Linked DNA regions of Homo sapiens: region 2 is linked to region 1. Evidence: fine-mapped expression QTL. A gene starts in region 1. The other region holds a variant in brackets. All regions are shown on one strand. Distances are from middle to middle.

Region 1 (9,614 bases):
TGGAACCTTTATGGAACACCTCCTCTGTGGAAGGCATCTGCACGATAAACTAGAGAATTTTAAATGATTTGAAAATGCATTCTAAGTGGTGAAGAGTCTTCCTGTTAAACATATTTAGGCAGAGAATAAAAAGAATGTTCTGTATTTAAAATGAATGTTTTTTGGATCTTGTCTAAGGGCAAGCCTTATGCAAACTGCCAGCGTCTCTTAAGGGGGAAAAAAGGGGGTGAAGGTTGTAATTTCCCTCCCAAAGACAAATGAAAATTTGTTTTTGTTTTTACAACAAAGTCCCCCTTTCTCAGCTTGGTACACATCAAATACAGCTTAGTGAGCCAAGTTTACTTAATGGTTCCCCCACCTTTGTTTTGTTGGTAATAAAGGGAAGTTGAGATTTCAGAATAGAAGGGAGATTTAGTTGAGTTGTCCAACAAATAATTGTCCTAGGGTAGAAAAAAGCAGTGCTTTGTGGGGGAAGGTAGAAAAATAAAAAGGGGATGTGTTTTGGGAAAACTCTTAGAGGTGTTCTGGCTGTATCTAAATTTTTGTTTCTTTGTTATTTTACTTGCTATTGAGACGCTTCTGCTTCAAGATTTCTCAAGCAATTGGAGCCTGGTGAAAGGCAAAGGTAGGTTTTAGGAGACATTCTCAAACAGGTTTTGCTTGCATGGAGCTCTAGAACTGTTTCCTCTGGGAAAATGTTGGCAGATTGGGAAAGTGCTCTTTAGAGTGAAGCTCCTTCACTCACTGGTTTGGGAGGGTGCTGGAAACCTCACGTTTTTGACGGCATATTTGCATCCATTTTCTTGTTGGAGTCTTACAGCCTTCTCTGGGGTTAGGAGGGTAAGTGTTATTCTACTTTAAGAGAGCAGTAAATAGAGTGACCTCAAAGAGGTTGAGACTTGCCCAAGGTTATATTGCTAGGAAGTGGTGGAACCAACACACAAACCTAGGTCTTCCAATTCCAAGGATAGTGTTTTTTCCAAGGAGTTTTTTCTTATATCCATGCCCTTTACCCCTGCGTTTTCCTTACCCTTTCCAAATGCTCCTCTGCACACCTTCTCTGACACCTAATATTCTTTTCAGCTGCATGTTTTTAGGCTCCTGTAGGTGAACCCCAGGCTGAGAGGACCCCCTATGGGTCCTTCCCAGCAGGGCCCTATACTCACCTCGCCAGGGCCCAGAGCTCCTTGGTGCTTTGCTGCTGGTACAGCTAGGAGAGTAGCTGCTGGGTTGGCTCAGGGCCCTGCTGAAATGTTCATCCACCACGGAGCTGATGTCCCCCTGGAAATAAGTGAAGAGGACGCAGCGGGAGTTGATGTACTCTGCCTCTGGTGGGCGCTCTTTCTCTGGGCTGCCTTCTTCCTCTTTTATACTGGCTGGGGTTTGGCTGGAAAATGAGGAGCTGCCGCTGCCACTGCTGCTGGGGCTGGCATTGCACTCCTGCGCTTCCTGCATTTTGGAATAATAGGCTAGTTTCTGTTCAGAGAGAGAAAGAACAGAGATATCAATTTCAAAAGCGATGGCAAATTCGGTTCAGACTGATTCCCTCATCCTAATCTCTAAGGTATTTATGGGGAAACTGGCATATGGGCTTAAGCCTTGTGCTGTTAGCATAAAACTAGCAATAGCGGGGCAACATAGTTAGCAGGCCTCCCAACCTGCACCCAAGCAAGGACGGGCTTCCTTAAAGGAAGATTGCTGTCCTTGGTCCCTCTGACTCCTAGAAAATTTCTCCTAAAATGTCTGGGTGAAGGTTTCAGGAGACACCTAAGCAGCTAGGTTTAGAGCTGAGTTTGACCTCATAGCTGGGCTCAGGGCAGATATATTTTTAAAATCAGACTCCAAGGGTAAAGGGCACCCAAGTCCAGATAGAGCCTGACTGTTCCTTGCCTGAGAATCCAGGGCAGAAGCACAGGATACAGGATAAACATCCTCCTGATGAAATAGGAGCGGGGGGCAACCCCCTACCCCTACAAAATCCACTCCCTGAAACTAGGAATGTGTGAAGGAAAGCAACAGGAATGTAAAGGAAGAAATGCCACAAAAAGTTTGAAATAATTACATTTAGTAATGAATTGTGTGGGGTAAAAATCTGGGGTAACATGACTGGGGAAACACGGATCATTTTAATAAATGCAAGTTGATTTTTTTTTTATTATCCCTATATCAGTTTTTAAACAGATCTTCTCTTTAATAACGAAAGACCAGTGGATTACGAGTATTTCCACCCCCATCATCTCCACACACATTGAGGAAATGATAAAAAGGAGCAGACAGAAGAAAGTTAAGATCCTGGCTGTGAGGTGGGGTAAATCGGCATGTCTCATAGTGATTTTAAAAAGCAGGCGCAGCTTCTGTGAACATTTTCTTAGAAATGAGCAATGGACTGAATGAAGTGTTAAAGCATTCTGCAGGCAGAGATGGCCTTGAAGAGGCGGCCCGAGTCATACAAAAATGAACAGAGATCTTCATGCAATAGATTGGTTCGGGGTCTGGGAGAAGAAAGGGCCAGTCAGAAAACCAATCCACCTCTCTCCTCTTTGCTTGCCATAGTCCCACCCTGGGAAGAAGTACATTTCAGAAGCTGGAGCCAAAAGGTTTGAAATAATTGGGGACAAAACGATGTAAGATTTAGCAATATCACCACTTCCTAAATGCCACCTTCCCTACAAGAGGAACTCTGGTGATTCTTAAAATTAACACTGAGGCAAAACAAACTGCAAGTTGTGAAGTTTAAAAGAGAAGAGGAGGTAAGAAAACAAAAAGTGAACCCTATCCGGTCCATCATTAATTTATCGGGAAATTTTCGAATAGACATTTTAAATTTGCAGGCAAAATTAGCAAAAGCATCCACTGGGGCATTGGGGTGTATTTCAATTTCCCCAAAGCAGGTGACCAAGCTCTCACTTTCCAACCTGGAGGGGACCCCTACAGCCTCCCAGGTGTATGATTTCATTCTTTTCCTGCACTACTGTCCTCAGTTTCTGCTACCTCAGCTGAGGAAATGGAAGGAAAATGGTTCAAACAGACGCAGCCTGAAGACAAGAGAAACTGGCAGAATTAAATGGAACTTGAAGAGTTTGCAGAACCCGGGTTGAGTGGTCTTCTTAAAGTGTTTGTTGGAAGCAGGGCTTCCCCATTCACCTACTCAGGCTGGAGAAAGGCAAAGTATTGTCTATCAGGCTCGCCTCTGCCGGGTCATTCGCACTCCGGATAATGCTCCCAGAACTTCGCAAAGGAAAAAATTATAAAACTGCGCGGTGCTCTTTGAAATGAATTCTCTGGATCTGGAATTAATTGCCCTGGTCGCCAGAGAATTGAAACGGAAGAAATTATTCCTGAGATAAACTTGCAGGGATGAGAACACCGGCCCTTGCATCTCAGAAAGAGGCTGGCTGGCCTTCGCTTTTGGTTTTGTTGTTACTCTCACCATTGGGACCAAAGTTTGGTTTTTCCTGCGTCAGCTTTGCCTGCATTTCCTGGTACCTGCACCTGGCTTGGAAGAATCTGGAGTCCGACAGACCCTAAGAAGAAAATCCAGCCCGTGCCATCTTCCTCTGATTATTCCAGGGAAGACCTAGGCTCACATTAGCAGGGCTTAGCTGCTTCCCGAGAGCAAACAGGCGAGCTAAAGGGGTTAGCTAATTGCACTACCAACTGGGGGCGGCTCCGGCAATCCCCGCATCCCGGCTGCGCCGGTCGTGGTCGGACGCCCGAGACGCGCGGAGGCACAGCAGACCTTGGCGTACAGGCCATGCCGCCGCAAACGGGGGGCGCGCACTCCTTCCCAAAGTCCCCAGAGGAGACACGTACCTGGTGGTAGGGGGTGTAGGCGGCTGCGAAGTAGGGCTGCGGAGGACCATAGACTTGGTACATAACATCCAGACAGCTCATGACTCTCCGCAGCGGAGACGGTTAAGTGTTTTTTCATTAACTCTCCTTCCCCGGAGCTCAGGGGTGCTGCATGGGCGGCGCTTGGACCCGCGCTCTGGAGTCATCAGGCGGAGCAAAGCCAGCGCGCTCCGCGGCTCGGAATCCAGCTGGCTCGCTACCCTCCCACTCCTGCGATTTTACTCCCGACCGCGCTCCAGGGCAGAAGCGCCTGAGCTCCCGCTAGTGGGCATTTAAAGCCCATGCCCGGCGGGCGTGCTGACGCCACTCGGGGGCTGCGGAGCGGGAGGGGGCGGTGGGGGGCGGGGACCGGGGGGCCAATGGGGAGCGAGGGACGCTTGTTGGAGGGGCAGCGAGTGTGTTTCCCGGGGCCCACCTCTGACAAGCATGCGGCCAAGGGTGCCGGAGACTATGCGGTTCCCAGCGGATCCGAGGCTTCGCACCGCGAGTAGGAATCTCCCAGGACAAAATAGGAGAGAGAGAGAAAGAGAGAGAGAGAAGGAGGCGGGGACGAAGGGATCCGGGCTCATACACGCAGAGAAAGAAAGTTGGAGAAAGGTCTCTTAGGAAAGCCCTTGTCTCATACTGTAGTTGAGTGGGTGCTTCCAGAAGTGCCGAGGTGGGGCAAATTCTCTGCTTTCGGTTCCTGATGATGTATGGGGAGGACGGTGCTGTCCCTTGGAATCCCCTAGGGAGTCCGGGTCGTGGCAGACAGGATGTGGGAGTCCGGGTACCCCTCCAGGGCGCAGAAGAGCTACCTCTGCGGGGAAATGGCAGTGGCTGAAACCTGTAACCGCTGTCCTCTAATCCACTTCCTTTCGCTCCCTCTAACCTGGTCCTCCCGCCGCCTGTCCCACACCCCAATTCTGCTCTCTTGGGCCGTGCCCTTCTGCCCCTCTAAAGTTCGATCCTGCTCCTTTCTCTTTGATGTTCTCCACCGGAACCCGTTAGCTTCGCATAGATCGCGCCCGCTTCCGGCTGCTCCCGGTGTGAGCTGCTTTCGAGGAGTCCAGGAGGCTTTACCCGGCCTCGGATGTCTGGCTTTTCATGCTGGGGTCTCCTTGGCCGGGGTCCTTTAAAGTTTTGGCAACTTTGGGGACAAGGACTCGTTGGCGCTAAGAAGAAGCATACTAGGACCCGTACACAGAGAGGTCTTTTGCTGCCTATTCAGCCGGTAATACCAGCTGCGATGGTATGTTTCATTTTGGAGAGCTGGAAGTATATGCACTCCAACTATAAAACCTTCACCCCTTTCTCTCTCCGGCCCTCCCTGAGAGGTCTGCTGGCTTCGCCCTCCTTCCTGCGACCCTACCCATCCTTCTCAAGCCTACCCCCCACCAAGCCCTCTGGAAAGGGGGTGTAACAGTGGAGTCTTCAGTTCTATAAGTTTAGGAATGCATTGAGACAAGGCTATCTCCATGGCTGGGTCAGGTGGCGGAAGGGGCATTACGGGAATAGAGGCGGGCCAGACTTGGGGGGACCAAGGGAACAGGTTGGGAGCATTAAGAGTCTAGACTCAAGAAAGAGGCAGCATGGATTTCAAACCCTAGTTATTCCCCAGCTTAAATACAACAGAAAGTCTTTATAGAGTCTCAGGCTATAAGACTGTGAATAAATGAACCCTTGAAGATCTATTTGTGTTTTAAAAGTGAGTATTTTAAGCCAAATTGTTTTAGGGTTGCAGTTTTGGTGTTGCCCAATTTATAGATGGGAAATGGCTCCGTGTCTCCAAATGCTTGTAACTGGTGAGCCATCTTGAGCGATTCGACAATTTCCTTAATTAACAACAATGTAATCTATGTAAAGTTTTCTAATCAATGAAAAGTTAAAATAAAGACACTCTTCTAGTACATTTCCATGCAAGCCTCTTTTTAGGGGCCAAGCTGCCTGTTGGATGAAATCTGCCAGCTTCTGGAGCTTCTGATTATCCAGGCGCAAGGGTGAAGCAGAACATCCATCCCACCTCCACCCCAATGTGCCCTCCCTAGGCGTTTCTGAAGATAGGTACAACCACCTATCATCATTTTCTTTGGGGCAAGAGAGGAAACCCTCATCCAAAGAGCCACAGTACGCTCTTCTGTGTGCGGGAGATGGGGAGTTCAGGTCCCAGTCTCGCTGGCCGCTGCTGCGCACCCTTTCTGCTGGGTCGGCTTCACCCAGGCCCGCAGGAGTACAGGTGTCAACGCAACCATCGCACCAGGGACTCCACGGGGCGGGCGGGTGTGGCCCCGGAGGGTCCGGTCCCCCACTTTCGCGCAAGTCCCGCAGTCCCTCCTTGGACACGGAGGTTCCGTTTTGGACATCTCTGGGCGTGAACATCGGTGGCTGAAGCCGGCTCCTTTTCGAGCAGCCTGGGCTTGGCAGTGTTGTGCAGGGGGAATGGGGGTTGGTGGGTGGGAAGCGGCGGAAGGCAAGCTCCACTAGCATGTCCAACCAATGCATGGAAACCCTGCTTTTGTCCTTGCTCACCTTCCAGTAGCTACCTCCTATTCCCAGTACCCGGTCACTTTGACATTTTTAAATTTTACGATGGCTATAGTACTAGAAGACCTTTTTATTTATTTATTTATTTGCAATTTCCAGAGAAAATCATGACAACCTCTCCAAGTCCAACAAGGCCCAACAGAAAGTTATTTTCGGAAAGGATTACAGGAAGAACGATTTTGCGTATCTCAGACGAAGAAATTGAAGAGAACATTATTCTAGTTGCCTAAGGCTGCTTTACATTCACATTACTCAATCTCCTCTTACTTGAAACAATTTTAAAAATCTCACTGAAGCTAAGCGAGGGTATGGACTGCACAGGAGTTCGAAGGAACACAAGGAATTGGGTCAGTGAGCATCAATCTAGAATTTAGGAAGGAAACCATTTTATTCCCCCTAAATCCACAGTGAAGGAAGAAAAACAAACATCCCAGAGTTTTAAAACACGTCCCAAAGATTGGAGAATGTTTCGTCTTTTCTCTATGTCTGAAAAGTTGTCATTTACAGGAGGGTGGTACTTCTCAATCGCATGAGATTGCCTCTTGTTTCTACGCTGAAGCGGAAAGTAAAACACAGCTAAATTTGATCCCCTTTACTCTCCCAGCCATTCAAACCACCAGCACATTATCAAGGTTGAAGAAGTTAGATTTAGATTCAGAGTCTTGGGAATGGGCTACAGGTTGAGAAAATTATCTTTCCTTCCCTCTGGAGTCCTCTTCCTCAAGAAGAGACTGAAAAACAAACAGATGTCCCTGAATTTGGGCCCGAAGCCCCCAGTGAGATAAACTGTTCCCAGTTGCGTGGAATTGGCTTTTAACTCCTTAACTGGGCAGAGGGAGTATCAAAACTTCTCTTTGAAAAGAATTTCACTTTATGATCGATTAATGGCCATTTATTGAACTGCTAGGAAAGAGCTATATGAAAGTAAATTGCACCAAAATTTCTTTTTTAATATCCTAGTTCTATTCTGCAATTCTAACAGCATCTATACTGTGAAAATAAAGACACCTTTAGTCTTGAAGTTAATAAGTGAAATTAAATTACTTTAGCACAAGTAAATGTTTCAAGATAGCAACTCAATGAAATACCTGTTTTCTCTTCAGAAAGGTTTACCTCTCACTTTCGTAAACTAGCTGATTTCATTATCTCTGAATCTATCTGTCACTTGTGTCGTCTTATTCTGAAAACCGCAAAGACACTGCTTAGCAAGGATACTTGAATAGAACTGATTTGGAGAACTGACTTGCAGCCAGCCAGGCCCTTCGTTGCCAGTGGTTTATTTAAATCATGAGTTGGCATTTCATGTTGCCAACCGAGGGGGATAAACACAATGGTAACCTCACAGATTTTCCCCCACAAACTCATTTTTTTCATGTTTTACTGACAGGAGTTGTGTTTGGATTTGGGAGAGTAGCTGAGAAGATTTTGTGGATTCAAGCTGTTAACAATATTAGTTAAAAACATTTCTGTAAAAGCCAGGGTTTTCAGGCATGATCTGTTAGTTAGGAATAATACTGTAGTAATGGACTGAATGGTGATTTAATTTTAAAGAAAAAAAGGGGGAAATAGAGAAATCCATGCATCCTGAAACCTCACTAAAAAGCTAAGTGGGGAGGAATTACAGTTTGACTTAGTGAAAAAAATAAGTAAAAGATGGTTCAGTTATTTTCATACAAACTTTGAGTAGCTCTTAACAGTGCTTCCAGGTAAAAATCTTCTATAGTCAGTTCAAATGAATAGATAAAGTTACTTTTATTGACATATAGAGGATTATTAAAAGAATGTTGAACTTTTCCTTCTTTACATATTTAAAACCCTATTTTTATGTTATGTACATGTCAACTTTAGCTTTGGTGAAATAATTGCAATCTTTTGAATTTAGTTTATCTTGTATTCATGTTAACATTTGTGCCCATTTCTAAGACTGGGGAATATAACTAAAACCGTATTCATCTTTTTAGAAATGAGTTCTTTTTAATGAGTCTCTATGAAATGGTTATATAAAGATAAGATTATACAAATTCAATTCATGTGACCCAATCCTTTAACAATGGTAACATACAAATAGCAAAAAAGGGACACTTAAAATAGATGTGTGTCAAATGTTTTGCCTTGTCATATTTTCACAAGAGAAAAAATTAGAAGGAAATTTACATTGTATAAGATATACTTGGACATGCATAGCTAAGTCTGAGAGCACATATCAATTATTTCTTAATAGGAAGAAATTGCCTGTCATCTCTGCTTTGCCTGGAAAAGTAGCTCTAATTGCTTATAATTTCTGATGCTATCATTTGCTTTTCTTTAAAGACACACAGTTTGGAGAAAGCCTCACAACTAACATATTTGTGAAACTACTTTTGTAAGATATAGGGAGATAGAGGAATTTACAGATTCAGAAAGTGGAAGTAGACTTAAAGGATTTAAACTGTTGACTTAGATATTTGACAGTGTTGGTGTTGATCCATTCTCAAACTTCTGTTTATAAACTTGATTTCAGCAGGATGCTGAAGGGATTAAAAGGAGACCACAGCAATAACAGACTGAAGGTGAAGATATCCATCTGAGTGTGGAGTGTGGTGTCCTGTCACTTGTATCAAGAGCTCTTAAAACAGCTTTTAAACAATTCTCATAGGAAGTTTTTCTTTGCATGCATGGAATAATTTTTAGCATGGAATGCTACACTGCCATTGTTTGTTTTATTTATTTGGCACTTAAAAATAATAAAACGAAGTGCTGAATGGAGGCAACCATACCAACACATTAGAAAGAAACAAAGGTCCTTTTTACATTGGAAAGCAGACCTCAAAGCTATGGAGAGTTACCTTGGCAGAAAGGAAGTGTGAATAGTAGTCGTTAAATTGAAATACTTTTAATTTTTGTTCTTAACTTCATACTATAAATGTTTCACATCATATTTGAAGATGAAAGTCCAGTTGTGGACTATGAAATTAAACCTCCCCAGGTGGTATTATTGTTTCATCTTTCTTTAGGAGAAGCATGAGACAACTAATTTTTAAAATAATTAAACTCGCAGCATTATCCAACAAATTTAAAACATTGCAATGTAAATTTTTAAAAAATGTCATTTTATATGACCTATGCAGTCTATTGTCACAGTGAATCAGAGTGGAAATTTGTCAGTTGTCCAGATAATTCAAAAAACAAAACAGCTAAATATGACCATATAAGAAATAATACTGAGCAATTCAGGTCTCAGAGTAGGCTTTCACTAAGAA
Region 2 (9,614 bases), 64 kb after region 1:
AAGAGTGTATATAGAATGTTGACTGTACATGTGTGACCTTGAAAGGGCCTACTTCAATGTTTCCCCTTTCAGAATTTGGCCCTTTTTATCTCAAAGGACATTTTTTCCAGCCTTATTGAGGGATAATTGGCAAAAATTATATATATTTAAAGTATACAACTTGGTGTTTTGATATTTGTATACATTGGTGATGAACACAATCAAGCTAATTAACATATTCATCACCTCACATAATTACCATTTTCTTTTATTGACGTAGAGAGAACACTTACAATTCACCCTCTTCTCCAATTTTAAATATATGTACAATGTATTATTAACTGTAGTCACTGTGCTGTACATTATATTTCCAGAACTTCCTCATTTTACAAATACAAGTGAAATAAATATGGACAAGCTGGAGGACTTTGGAGGGTGTAGGACAGGGAGGGAAAATGTTAAATAAATCTTAGACTCTTTCTTCTCCCTGACACTTTGCATAGATCAGTCACCACATTGTGGGGTGTCTTCCTTGAGCTGAAAAGAACTGGTATGCAGTGGGGGAGGTGGGGAAGCCCAGGGCTTAAAGGTGGCTCTGCTCTACCTACTTTGTAACCTTGAGAAACTAGACCCTGAGGCTGTCAGCTGCCTCAGTTGACCATCTGGGATATTATCAGGGATAATAAGTCCCTTAGAGGATTGTTTGAAGATTAGAAATAATGTTTTGGTTTTTTTTTTTGAGACAGAGTCTCGCTCTGTCGCCCAGGCTGGAGTCTAGTGGCTCGATCTCGGCTCACTGCAACCTCCGCCCCCTGGATTCAAGCGATTCTCCCGCCTCAGCCTCCTGAGTAGCTGGGATTACAGGCAAGCGCCACACGCCTGGCTAATTTTTGTAATTTTAGTAGAGGCGGGGTTTCACCATGTTGGCCAGGCTGGTCTTGATCTCCTGACCTCATGATCCGCCCACCTCGGCTTCCCAAAGTGCTGGGATTACAGGCGTGAGCCACCGTGCCTGGCCAAAATGTTTTTAAAGTGTCTGCTACACATTTGTTACTCAAAATACTATGGTTATTTCTTGAATCTGTTACTGTCCCTAAATTCAGTCTTTCAAAACCACTTTCCTAGACTATCCAACAGTTTTTTAGTTGACTTACCTACTAGTCTTTCTACATGATTAGACGCCAGAGTGAACTTTATAAAAAACAAATTTAATGTCCTTCCCCACGTGAAAATCTTTTGTATCTAAAGGACATCACGAGCTCTTAAGTCATTCAAATAACTTTAAAACCTGTCCCCAGAACACTTTAAAGACTCTCTTTCCTACGTGGTATTCCCCATCCCCAAGGCAGGCTTTATGGGAAAGTGGCAGTGCAGTCACAGAGTCCCTGCCCTGTAATGAGGCCCCATGCTCAACTTAATCCTCTGCTATGGACTTCTTGAAATTCTTAATGATTTTATCTTTGATCCTGTGTTTTGTAAGTGATGTCACACAAAACAACAGAGTGTAGCCAGGAGCAGCAGAGGCATGCCAGGTAGCAGATTGTACATGTGTGGGCTCAGGTCTGTGGCAGCAACAGTTGGGCAGTTGGTCTGGCCTACTGGCATGCATGTGCCTGGGGTACCCTGGGAGTCATTGGCCCCAAGGGGTGACCAAGGCTAGAACCTGGGCCCAGATTAGCAGTGGCAATGTCAGAGTAGAAGCAGAAGCAATAGCAGTGGCTGCAGTGGCAGCAGGGGCTATGGCTCTGGGAGAGAAGGGTTTTGCATGAGGCCAATGCCAGGACTATGCTGGTAAGCAGGCTTGCCTGCTGATCCCCGGAGTCCATCCCTGTGCATCTGTGCAAATAGGAATTCTCTGGCTTGAGTGAAAGGTCAGGAACTCTGGAGATCAATGATTAGGAACATTGTCAGTAAATCATTACAAAGTGGAAGCATACATAAGACATAGGATAAAAATGTCTCAGGGAATTATTAGAATTCTCCAAAGAATTTTGAATTTCTGGTTTTGAAAACTGCTGCAACATTGCAAAGCAAATATCCACAGGCTTATAAATAAAAATGAAATGATTATCACATTTGACAGAAACTAATGCTATTTTCATATGAAACTGCAGGTGAACCATTAATAGGAAAGAAAATTTTAAAATTAATTTTTCCTTATAATGGAAGCCACAGAGGTGAAATGCATAAACAGGTATTTTGAATTATATGTAAATTGTGAAATTGCTTTAAGTTTCTTGTATAATTGCCACAAGTTTCAAGAAATGATAGAGAAAACAAAAATGTCATTGCATACATTTACATTTGAAATTACATTTAAAAAGTTAAATTAAGACATACATGAAATTGATTTGCTTGAAGAGTCAAATCTTTAAAATATGGTTCTGCAAGGATCATCAGCTCTAGATATACCAACGTTTATATTATGAAATAATTTATCAGAAATGTATCCCAATGTTGCCATAGCCTGCAAAATAACCTTAACAATTCTATTAAGTTTGAAACAGTGGAAAGATCATTCTGAAGTTTAAAATTAAGTTTAAAACAGATCAAAATTTGTTTGCAATTTTGCATTTGCCAATAGTGACTTGCTTTTAATTATATTGTTTGAAAATGAAGTTGCTAAATGTGTCAATATTTTGAACTTACAGATTTGTAGAAAAATGACCAGAAAATCATATGATCAACCAAGATAGCATGTTAATAAGATATTATTCACTATGTTACATAAAACGATGATCCCTATATATATATATATATATTGCAATTTACAAGTTTACATTGTAGTCCTGTATCACAATCACTCCATTCCTTTTTGTTAAAAAAGGAAAAAGTTTTATATGTCGGTATATCTTTAACTGAACTTCTCCCCCTGCTTTTTGAACCACAGGCTTGACATTTTCAGTTTGTACCAGGTCCTACAAATTACATAACTGATCCTGCCCAGTCTCTCTAGCATAGCTCATCTCCCATAAGTAGCACTCACACACACTTCTTTCTACCGCCAGTGATGTCTTTCCTTTGGTTATGTTTTGTCTCCTGCTTACTATGTTCTTCCTGCCTCCTCACCTGTAAGAATCCTACTCAACCTTACATACTCAGCTCCACCTATGAAAATGCTATAGCATGGCTGGGCGCGGTGGCTCATGCCTGTAATCCCAGCACTTTGGGAGGCCAAGGGGGGTGGATCACGAGGTCAGGAGATCGCGACCATCCTGGCTAACACGGTGAAATCCCGTCTCTACTAAAAACACAAAAAATTAGCCGGGCGTGGTGGCGGGCGCCTGTAGTCCCAGCTACTCGCGAGGCTGAGGCAGGAGAATGGCTTGAATCCGGGAGGCGGAGCTGGCAGTGAGCGGCGATTGTGCCACAGTACTCCAGCCTGGGCAGAGAGCGAAACGCCCTTTCAAAAAAACAAAAAAACAAAAAATGCTATAGCACTTTGACCACACATTCTGTATAGCCTTACTGTTTTGTGCTATTATGACCTGTTTGTATGTTTCTCCCTTTTGCTAGACTCCGATCTCTTTGAGGGCAACCACTCTCCCTCTTTAATAGTTACTATTTCTTAGTACTTTGTACTGTGCTTTTCTTATTTTAGGAGTTTAATGAATATGATTAAGTATAGAGTATTGAGGAGAACAACAGTCAGCAAAACTGTTAATGAGGAGATGCAGATAAGTTGGCGAAGGCATTGACCAGGGTTTCTCCAGTGTGTCTGGTTGACTTAGCAAGTGTCCCTGTCCTCTTATTGCCTTACTCCTGAAGAAGTGACAGAAGAACCCAAGACCTGTTAGTCAGCAAAGGGGGACTGAGGAGAAGAGCGCAGCATCAAAAGGGATGCCAGGTGCAATGGCCCAGAAGCAGGAGAGAGCACAGTGAGTCCCAGGAGCTGAAGGGGTTTTCCTCCTCAAGGGGCATCCTTGTTCCCTGAGGAAGGCCTTCGCAGAGAGAGAAGGAATGGTTTTATGTCTAAAACCATTTTTAGCTTCCTTCCCATGACCTCCCAATAAGCTTTTTAAGATCCATCTCTAGATCAATAATAATGACAGTGAGATATTTCACAGTCAAAATATTTAATATCATGCTTAGGACTTTCCTTTATCATTAAAGTTTGGATCATTACATAAGCCGCTGGCTCATCTCCATCTATTAGCCCATTAGCTAAGTGGTGATGCTGTTGGTCCTATTGGGTGGTTCACTGAATTAATCAGTCTGTGTAACAGATGTTCTTTTCTGGGTATGTGGTAGAGGGGTGTGACTTAGGTCTGTAATCAGAGATGGTTTCCCTACCTTCCATGTTTAAGTCACAATAAGGTACAGGTAAGAAGGAAAGATCATAGCATATCCATTTCTACCACTGCTGGAAAAAACTTCTTATAGCCAATGCCCCCTTTATACCAAGAGGAACCCAAGTCTGGTTTTCTAGATCCAATGTGAAACTCATATTTCCCCTTGAGTGGGACACAGTTAATACACCTTAAGAGTTTCCCCGGGGTAAATTTTTTTTATTAGAGTTCAGAACTTTAATTAAATCTTTAAATATGGTGGTTGGTTGTAATATATATTGATTCTTTGATTTTGGGAACTGTAGGTAGCTAATAACTGTTCAAAAAATCTTCAGAAAATAACTCAAAGATTTTATGCTGTATGAGGTCGCAGGCTTCTCTGTCTTTTCTGATAGAGACTGTTTCATTCTTATATGTTCCTTTTTAGGTATCCTAGAGAGTCAGTCATAGAAAAGACAAACACATTTATAAATGTGCTATTTTTATTTTTGGCTCTATAGACTACCTTAACATATGGCAAAGTTTCTATGAAAGAGGATATGAAGGCCCTAGAAAGTTGGGGAAACATGAACATATAGCCAAATTTAGATATCTTAAAAACAACAAGGTGTACTTACAAGCTTAAAAATAATTTTCTCAGTAAATCTACAAATAATAATCAAAAGGATGAGAGTGGGGAGTGTAGGAGTTCACTCTTTATAGATATTTATTTAAAAAGCCCTAATGAGAAAGTGTGAAACAAGAACAAGGAGCAATTTTCTACAGAGAGACAGAGAGAGAGAGAGAGAGAGAGAGAAATACTATGTGTTACATGCTGAGAGTGTCAAAGGACTGTAAAGATGTACCCATTTTAAAAGTTTTTAATGAAATCATATATCGAGGTGAACTACATTAAAATTTATTTTTCAACCATTCTAGAAATGATAGTCCAAGTTGGCATGTCAAGACTGGTAGGTCACGCACTATTCACTGTAGCTCAGATTGCTGGGAGTCACATCCTCCTTGTTAGTTTCAGGTGACAGCTCACTGTACAGGGGAGATCCACTTGTAGAGAAAGAGAGAAGAGGGATAGGAAGATTTAGCACTGCATTTTCACAGGGCAAGAAATTCCAACCTAGCTCCAATGTGTGTTGGCCCGTTGCCTGGGATCTTGTTAAA[C/G]ACATGACCATCACTCTTCTGCCTATTTCTGGCCTGGATTTGGAGCTTGGTGTCTAAGCAAACCCCACTGGAGCTAAAATTAGGCAGCCAAATTGTGACAAGACATACTTGTCTTCAATAAAGAAGAGACATCTATTTAAAAAAAATGGATGTATCCGTGGGTCAACGTAAGTCACACGCATCTTAGCAGACTGTTTTCATTATGCAGAAACAAAATTAAAATAGACCAGCTAACTAGACTGACTGCATTCTGGCCTTTAGCCATTTAATATTGCCAGAGTAGCCCAATTCTGTTGCTAATGGTCCTGTCTAGCTGTAGGAGAGTTTAAGGAGTAAAAGCAAAATAATGAACTATTGACATGAATGATGAAAAGCAGAGCAAACATATATAACCATATATTTTAGATGAATGTAATTTTATGATTTCAAAGTTTGGAGGCCTTTTATATCACAGGAGGAATGTGTTGGGGTTTGAGAATCAAGGCATTCTCTTTCATTTGACTGGTATCTTATAGAAGCGGAATTATCATTGAAATTATAGCAAAGGACAGTAACAACAATTCTTTATATTTGTGTGACATTTTTACCTTTTAAAATATTTTTACACTTATTTCTCAAACTTCTCACTAAATATCTTTTGACTGCCCACTTTATGGGTATTACCATAAATGGTATCGTGGGAGAAATCAGTGATGAATCAGAAATTTTTTCTCCCATCAAGGAGCATAGGATCTGTTTTTAGAGGCAAAAAATAAATGCAGGAAAAATTAAACAACCACAACAAAAGAATTCAATGGCAATTTGAGCTCATAGTAGAAGAGCTACTTAAAAAGTAGTAATGATTAACTGTTTAACTGCCACATGTCTTCCATAGAGGAATTTAGAGGAAAATAATCACTTCTGTTTTCATTGATTATGGAGGAAGGAGTTCCAAGAATATGTAGAGGTCCATGGAGATAATGATGCAAAGAAAACAGGGAGACTAGAAGAAAGGTTTCAGATAATGGTGGGTACATTCTTTTGATGGAAGCTTATGTAGGGAATTAGCTGTCTTCACACTGGATGTGTCTATAGCAGGTGTGCACCTTTATATTTACTTGAGAGATTAAGCCTTGCTAAGTCCAGAGGAAGCCTGAAGACACAGAGCCTGCTGTACCTCTGGAAGGAACTCGAGCCTGGGCAACCAGACTCAGGCTGCTACTCTTTCTATCACACAATACTTAAAATCACAGCCAAAACATAAATAAGCAAAAAACTAAATAGAATCAACTAAATAACCCCTCCCCTCCAAATGTAATCACTTCAGAATTAAAGGATCCATTCTTCCTGGTTATGGTAGGTTTATTCTTCCCTTTCAGTTATAGCCACGACCCATCCCATCTCTCTTGATGCCTTCAGAACTCAAATACAGTTTATGACGAGGTTTCTAGAATGGGCACCTTCCTGTAGATGACCAACACCTCCGTTACACAGGAACTTTCAGGCTGGAGATACTTCCTACCTGTAATAAATTATTTCAACACTTCACTATTGAGAAGATTTAATTCATTCTCAGTAGTGACCAACAAGGACAAAAGACATTTAAATATGTTGGGCTCAAAAGACATCATGTTTTAAAAATTACTATGTTTTTGTATGAGTAAGAAAATAGGAAATTGAAAAAGGTTTTGCTAAGCATCTTTCATAATCAAAATTTCATGGTTTGATTTTATAACCAGACTGAAACAAAAGATGTTTATTCTATGAAATGGCTTTTGCCAAGATTGCAGTGACCTTGTTGTTAAAACTAACAGGCACACTTCAATGCTGATTTCATGTGATCTCTCAGCAGCATTCAAGTGATGACACTCCCTTCTTTCTGAAATGTTCTTTTTCATTGGCTGCTGTAACACCACACTCAGTTTTCCTTCCACTTTGACCCCTTTCTTTCAGTGTCCTTTGCAGGGTTCTCTTCTATTACCTGTGCCTTAAATATTAGGATCATTTGGAGTTGTGACCTGGGCATTTTGTCTTATAATTCTGTATACTCTCCTTGAAAAAATCCATCTGTTTCCATTGTTTAAATTAACTTTTCTATGCCCATGACTTCCTTACATAATTCACTCATGTGTTCAACTTTCTACTTCTACATCGAAAAGTCTACTCTCTACATCCAAAATTCTGTTTGGAATTTTCATGAGCACCTAACTATAGCCCCCTACCATCTCTGCCCTTCTTCCAGGGCACCTTCAATCTGCACATTGCACCACCAACCCACCAGCCACCTACACCCCTGTGTCAGGACGGAGCTTTTGTCCTGTTGACTCCTTGTCACTTCTAATCCTCATAGCTGGTGAGAGGAAGAGAGCTAGCATAATTATCCCAAAGTTATACTCTGGGAGGAAGCAATGTTAGGAAGAGAAAGATGTGTTTATACTGTAGATTCTGTGCTCTGAGAAATACCAGGATCCAATATTGCCATCCCAGCATGGAGGCAGAACTTGGTTTTGCCAACCTCTAGCAAAAAGTGTTGGAATCAGGATGCCTTTACATTCTTAATTGCTATTGAGAACCCCAAAGAGTTTTTGTTTATGTAGTTATATCTACTGATATTTATCATTTTAGATATTAATATTGACAAAAATAAAATATTCATTTATTAATTTATTTAAAGTAACTCATCCATTATACACTAATATAAGTCACATATTTTATAAAATATAACTAGATTTTCCAAGACAATGTTATTTTAGAAAACAGAGTGGGATTGTTCTTCATTTTTCCAAGTCTCTTTAGTACCTGACTTAACAAAGGACAGCTGGATTCTCATGCCTGCTTCTGCATTCAGTCTGTTCTAATATCACATGTTGTACACTCTCTAGAAAACCCCGCTGTTTATTCATACAAGAGTAAGAGTGAAAAAGACAAATAGCATGTTAGTTACAGTATGAAAATAGAGTTTTGGCTTCATGGAGTCCCCTAAAATGTTACAGAGAGCCTTAGCGTCACCGGAAGCACATTTTGAGAACCATTTCCTCATACTTTTCTGATTTCTCTCATAGTGTTGGGCCCAAAGTAGATGCTTAATGTGTACTTAGCTACCTATAGAAATTGAAATGTGGTTTAATTTTTTTTGCTTGTGATTTAGTTATTCCTGTGCATAAGAAGATGCAGAAACCCATCAGCTTCCAGCCAATTTAGAATTATAATGGTTTACTTTGTGAAACAATCAATGTTTGTGGAGGGATGCAGAAAATATGGAACATATACATTGCATTGTCATGTGAGGATGGCCGTGCATACTTGAGAGGGAGAAAGCTGGGATTGCAGGAATTTCAGGAACCTGAGAGGGTGTAGAGAGGAGTGGATTTGGGGCCAAGGCTTGGTCTATTAGTACAAGAAGTGCTCAGTCAATGTGATAGTAATGCTCAAGAGTGTGGAGTGGGAGTTGGCGCGATCTAATCGGTTGTGGAAGACCCACTTGCAAGGCTGGAATGGAAACTTGTAGAGAGTAATTTTCTTTCTAATCATGTATAAATCTCAAATGACTTGGCTTGCTATTAAAGTATTTCCAGACTTTTTATGGCATGGATATAATATCTAATAAAGTTTAGTAAAAGATATAGAGATGCCGTGTAATTGGGTACTCCTGAATCCTCTTAGAAATGGCCTTTGCAGAAGAGCTTACGAATCAGATTTGGTAATAAAACAGAATCATGTAATCAGAGGGACATGACAGATTTGACTGTAGGAGCTGTGCCCAGAAACTTCCCAGCACGAACTTCTAACAAGCCAGATGAAAGACTTGCTAACGGGATGTGTTGCTTTGAGGGCACTTTTCCTAAATTCCTATAAATAGGAATGAAAAGTTCCTTAGTATTTTATGGAGTATGTGACAACTTTAAGTCATGGATTGGTCTGTAGGAAGGGCATGTGAATGAAAAGATGTTCCTTAAGAAGACCTTCAAAAAGTCTGTAAAAGTACTAATTGACTTTTCAGAGCTTCAGGACTGTTTCTTTAGAAAAACATCAGAACAGACTAAAGAGAAAAACCAAGGCATCAATAACGTTTGCAGTGAATTGATGGTCAGCTTTTGTGCAGGGTCACTGAAGTGACTGTAATTCTTTGGTTAAAAATCAGACATCAGTAATAGGAAGGAGAAGAAGGGGAGGAGTGCTACACACTGATAAGAACTTTTAAGGATTTAC

What was found. PIP is the estimated chance that this variant, and not a neighbour inherited with it, causes the effect.
Region 2: its variant is fine-mapped to the expression of VGLL2 in atrial appendage (GTEx, PIP above 0.99).

Annotation. Positions count from the first base shown.
Region 1 is chr6:117,260,044-117,269,657 of GRCh38, reverse strand. VGLL2 (vestigial like family member 2) reads right to left here and starts at 4,100. Exons shown (of 4, transcript NM_182645.3): 1 at 3,814-4,100; 2 at 1,167-1,476. The coding sequence starts at 3,894. LOC105377964 (a long non-coding RNA gene) reads left to right here and starts at 4,584. Exons shown (of 2, transcript XR_942911.3): 1 at 4,584-5,083; 2 at 6,475-7,396.
Region 2 is chr6:117,196,021-117,205,634 of GRCh38, reverse strand. No RefSeq gene overlaps it. Among named protein-coding and RNA genes, the nearest start is that of VGLL2, 65 kb to the left of the region's middle. The variant C/G (reference allele first, on the strand shown) is at 5,427.